2 separate regions of the Homo sapiens genome follow, and region 2 is linked to region 1. The links come from fine-mapping of genetic effects on gene expression. A gene starts in region 1. The other region holds a variant in brackets. All regions are shown on one strand. Distances are from middle to middle.

Region 1 (3,026 bases):
TCCCTGACTAGACGTGGATGACAGGTTGGAGGACACTAGGGCCGTTCATGGGTGCTGGTGCTGAAGGTCCCACCCCTCTACCCCTCAGTCCTTCCTGATAGCTCAGAGCAGGGTCCTGTGTCACAGAATCTCAGAGCACCTCCTTTAAAATGAGCTGTGCACTGGCTCTCTCACCACTGGTCTTATAGGCCAGGAATGAGTCCGGCAGCATCCCAGAGCTGACCCCAGGGCAGGCCCTCAGAGGCACTTGGTGCTGGATGAATGAATGAGCAGGGGAAGAACTAGTCAATTAGGGACAGAAATGCAAGACAGGAGAAAGGTCCAGAGTGTGATTGTCTGCCTGCTGTGTGGAGGGACAGAAACTCGATGTTGAGAGGCTGGACAGGATTGCCAGGAGTGAGGGTGGGGTGGAGCTGCTTCTGGGGGCAGAATCTTGAGGGTAAAGGCAGAGAGTAACCAGATGGCAGACAGAATCGGCAGCTACTAAGGGGTGAGAGAGGTGAGCGTTGCAGAATCCTTGGGAGAAGCCTTTCATCTTAGCGGATCTGTGGGCAGCGGCCTTTAGTGGAACAATCAACTGACATCCCCAGATGATCACTGTCCACGCTGAAAGTCACCGCAGTGGAAGAACTTCTCTTCATGCACAGGGCAGGCAGGTTCAGAACCAGGGGAGAAGGAAAATGAAAGTTAAGAGAAAGAATGGTATGAGCTGAAGCAAAGGATGGTTCAGAAAGGGGGAGAGATTAGGAGAGCGCGTGGGAAGTGCCCCCTGCTTGGGTTCTGCTCCGGTAGTGTGGGATTTGGAGGAGGATCAAGGTCAGAGGCCCAGTCGACCTTCCCAAGGCCCCGGCCCCGCTGCAGTCCCTCGCACCCACGCCTTGACTCTGGGCTATGACTCCTGTCTTCTGCTCGGTAAACCAATCCTTTTTTTTTCCTGTGCCCGCAGTATTATGACTGTTCATGTGTCTGTCCGCCTGACCTCCAACCTCCACCCAGCTCGGGAGCTCCCCTAGAGCGCGCCAGAGCTTGAAATTTCGAATGCCGTTGTCGCTGAGTGAATGAATGAATGAAAGAATGAATGAGAGAAAGGAAGAGGAGCCCCCCATTGCCAGTGCCGCGCGCGCCCTCCGGGAGCCAGTCCTCAAGCCCCGACAGCCGCCGGCCCCGCGGTCCCTCCGCAGCTCCCGTCCCGGGGAGAGCAGCCCCGACCCTGCCCACGCTCACCCCGCGGATCCCGCGGAGGAGAGGCGCTGCCGCGGCCGGGCTCCATGCAGCCATGCCCGGCCGACGTGACCCGCCGCCCGAGGTCACTGTATGCCCGAAAGACGCGGAGCGGGGGACCGAGAGCCGCCGCCGTGGGAGAGGCCGCCCCCTGCCGCCCGGAGGCCGTCAGCCTCCCGGCCCCGCCCCGGAGGCCTCCGGTCGCCTGGCTCCGGCCCCACCCCGCCATCCCCTGGCCCTGGCTGACTCGCCACCCCCGACACTGCAGCGCCTGCCGACCTCGGGGCCCCGCCCTCTGCCTTCGCTCGCGCCGCTCTCCTTCAGTCTCCCCAGGGCCTGTTTCATGGATAGGGTCCCCTTGCCCGCGTGAAAGTCTCATTCCTCCTCAGCTCAGAAACACTCCAAGGTCTCGGCGCCCTATACTGGCCTTCCCTCATCCGAATACCCCTCGTGCTCCTGATGTACTTTTCCATTCCCACTCCCTACTCTGGCAGTCTAGCTTCTAAGCTGAGGAGTTTGGCCTTCGCTCCAGGTGCGGGGACTCGTGGAAGGATTTGATTCGCGCTTGAGAAAGATCGCTCCGCTCCTGTAAGGAAGAGAGCGTGTAGGGGCTGCAACCAGAGACACAGTCAGAAGCTCCGAGGCTACCGCGATGGTCCAGGTGAGAATGGAGGGGCCTAACTAAACCAGTGGCGGGAGGGATGGAAGAATGAACTGAGACACTTGGGAGGTGAATGGAATCGAGCGACTGCATGTGGAGGTGTGAGTGGGAAGGTATCTGAGATGACTCCAGTTTCTGGCTTGGACAATGACTTGGATGGAGGGTTAGGTGGGGGCTGAGCAGAGTCCACGAACAGTTCTTAATTTGCCTGAGTTTAAGGTGCCACAGGACACAGCCTAACAGAGGCCCAGGTTGGAGCCATGGACCATGGAGTCATGAGAATGGAAGGGAAGCTGACGCCATGTGGGATGGGGTAGAACTGTCCGCAAATTCGTCCCGCCTCTGGAGTCTTCAGACCAGTCAAGGCCGAAATTCAACCAAGCCTCTCCTCTCTCTAGCTGTTATTTGTTTGCAGCACGCGGTCTGGTGGCACCCTGCAGGATTTACCAGCTTTTTGCCAACATTCTGGCCTATGCAATCAATACGTCCCTTCAGCGTTGCACTTGGATGGATTGGACCTATAGTTGTTATATATGGATATTGTCTAATTTATTTATTACAGTATTAACTGACTCCTATGTTCTGGCCTTCAGAATTTCTCCTTTGGATCAATTACTAGCCTGTCTTACATTTTCTGCTTCATTCTTTTAAAATGTTTAGAGATGATTTGCTAAGTTTTCTTCATTGCTGTCAATGATGCAATTTAAACTGTCAAAAAAATTTTTTCTCAAGCAGGGTAGTAATGGTGAACCATTCCCTTGCTATTCAGACAGCATGGTTTAGATGAGGCGCACCTATCCCCAGCTTTAGGAATGGAAACAGGACCCAAGTCTGGCTAATCAGAGACTGGTTTAGGGTCGGCCCCATGGTCTGAGCCAGACCAATGAGAATTGGTAGAGGGACTTCCTTTTGCAACTTCTATTTTAGAATCGGGGGTATATATGCAGGCTTGTTACAGAGGTATATTGCATGGTGCTGAGGTTTGGAGTATGAACGAATCCGTCCTTCAGGTAATGAGCATAGTACCCAATAGGTAGTTTCAACCCTTGCCCCCTTCCTCCTTCCCCAGTCTTGTATTCCCCAGTGTCTGTTGTTCCCAGACATTGATCTTTTTCCTCTATGTTGCTAAGCTGGTAGAAAGGCT
Region 2 (2,500 bases), 21 kb before region 1:
CCAACTGATCTCTACCAGATTGACACAGTAGATCAGCTGTTTTAATGCTGAAAAGAGAAGCTTATATAAATACAGTGCACATCTATTAATGCTTCTCACGTCTGTAGTTCTGTTTCAGGCAGAGGTTTTTTGGCATAGGACCTGTATTCAGCTCACACTTTCCTAGGCTGGCTATGAGTAGAATGCCTCGTGGCAGTAGCTACACTCATACATAGGCATTGATCTTAGATCTGTGTAGAGTTTTAAATCATTGGCATCTTTTAGGCCTAAATTTTATATTTGCTGGATTTTTTTTTTTTTTTTTTTTGAGATGGAGTCTTGCTCTGTCACCCAGGCTGGAGTGCAGTGGTGCATCTCTGCTCACTGCAAGCTCCGCCTCCCGGGTTCACACCATTCTCCTGCCTCAGTGTCCCACGTAGCTGGGACTACAGGCACCCGCCACCACTCCCGGCTAATTTTTTGTATTTTTTCAGTAGAGACGGGGTTTCATCGTGTTAGCCAGCATGGTCTCAATCTCCTGACCTCATGATCCACCTGCCTCGGCCTCCCAAAGTGCTGGGATTACAGGCGTGAGCCACCACACCCAGCCTGGAATTTTTTTAAAGCAGTAAATGTAAACGCTAACTTTAGAAAATATTAATAATATGATTAATTTTAGCCAGAATAAAATAATTTGCCATCTTTATAGAAATCTGGCCACGTAGGAATTAGCATTCTTAAAATTGGCACTGAAGCCAGAAGATGGATAGTGAAATTGGTCACATGCATAGACAGCTACCAAGTCCAGTGTTTAATGGTGCCCAGTGAAGAGGATTGAAGCACACACCAGAGAAGCAGCTGTAACTGGGTCAGAAGAAAAGTGTCAGGCTGAGACTTAGTTTTAGGTAGAAAAATGAGCTGCTTGCCTCTACATTCATTATTGGCTCATCTCATAAACTCAAATGAGGGGATCAGAAGCTGGCAGAAGGGACGGACTCATGCTTGTTGATCCGGATGACCTCTGTTTCAAGGTTCCAGCAATGAGTTAGCTTACATTTTACAAGGTCTCCCAAAGTGAAATGTAGTAGTCTTTACTTAGTGACAGACTAATTTACAACTATGTAATTCTTTTAAGTTTGTAATTAAAATTTCTTCTGAA[T/G]TATTAATGGCTTTATTGACATGATGTTAATAAAGCCTCTCATCTTGCTGTTAAGTATTGTAGTGAGAAAATCAGCTGACCTGGAAACCATGGGGATTGGTTCTAATGAGCCATAAATGCTTCCCCTCTTCCTTCAGCACTAGTAGACTACCAGCTTTAGGCATTTAACCAAACGAATTGGAGACAGAAAATATTAAAATCCAGCCATCCTATATCAGATGATGAACTCATTTCCAGACTAACTACCCAAGAAAGCAAGTTAAACACTGTAAAAGCCTAAAACGGGGCAAGTTGGGATTAGCTTTTAAAATGCCTGCCTTGAAAAACACATTATTCTGTGAGGTTTTTTTTTTTTCTTTAAAGTTGTGCAAATTTGATTCGGAAAAATAGCTTAATAGGTTTGTATAGGGCACGGGAGAAGGGGTTGTGTGCATAAATGTATGATGATTATTTTAAGTGTGTGCTTCAGCAGCGACAACAAACAGATGAAGATACGTGATACTGACTAAACAGGCAAGAGTATTTTCTAGTCTCAGTTCTTCTAGTCAATGCCTAAAGTATTAGAAAAAGTACTGAAACAATTCCCAAAGCATCAGGAATTTCCATTTCTAGTCAAAATATTGTTTGTTTTCTTCCAACAGTTCTGTTAAATAAAAGGAAAAGTTATAAAGTTTTAGAGATATATTTAATGTCACAGGTTAATAATGTGTGTATAGAAGCCTTCTCTAACCTTGTTTGTAAATCTACCAAACCTCACCTCAAACAGTGTTCTCCTTAAACCCATCCTTTTTGTGCAAAGCTACTGCTTCCTGATGTCCATAACTCAAGGCATTTTTTTTTTCGCTTGGTGTAGTTTCTGAAATGTGATTATTTAATGTTTGCCAAGATGTTTGGAATAGAGTAACTTTCAACTAATCAATTGATTGTGACTTTCTTCTTTTGTAGTTTTTGTTTTTAAAATTGCTTTCTGTCAAACCCATCTATAATTCCCCCAGAATATATTTATATGGACTAAGGCTTACCAAAAATAAGGAAAATCGGAGAAACTGCCACCGCCAGGAGGAGCCAAGGGGACATGATGACTAAATGTAATCTGGTTTCATGGAGGGGCTACCTAGAAAAAAGACATTAAGGGAAGACTAAGGAAACTTGAATAAAGTATGGGCTCTCCTTAATAATAGTGTAACAAATTCATTGTAACAAATGCCCCATACTAACGTAAGATGTGAATAATCAGGGAAACTGGATGTGGGACATATGGGAACTCCACTATCTTCAAAATTTTTCTGTAAATGTAGAACTGTTCTAAAACAATAAAGACTATAAAAAAATAATAAAGACTATTAGAAAAAAAAAAAGGCT

Evidence for each region. PIP is the estimated chance that this variant, and not a neighbour inherited with it, causes the effect.
Region 2: its variant is the best candidate, but not a certain one, in a credible set for the expression of BOLA3-DT in fibroblasts (GTEx, PIP 0.53).

Annotation. Positions count from the first base shown.
Region 1 is chr2:74,146,597-74,149,622 of GRCh38, forward strand. BOLA3-DT (BOLA3 divergent transcript) reads left to right here and starts at 1,385. Exons shown (of 3, transcript NR_045636.1): 1 at 1,385-1,627; 2 at 1,754-1,882; 3 at 2,102-3,026. It overlaps BOLA3 (bolA family member 3), which reads right to left and starts at 1,316. Exons shown (of 4, transcript NM_212552.3): 1 at 1,225-1,316. The coding sequence starts at 1,278. RefSeq lists a silencer at 1,057-1,536 and an enhancer at 1,070-1,729.
Region 2 is chr2:74,126,214-74,128,713 of GRCh38, forward strand. It overlaps a transcript of TET3 not described here. Among named protein-coding and RNA genes, the nearest start is that of BOLA3, 20 kb to the right of the region's middle. The variant T/G (reference allele first, on the strand shown) is at 1,139.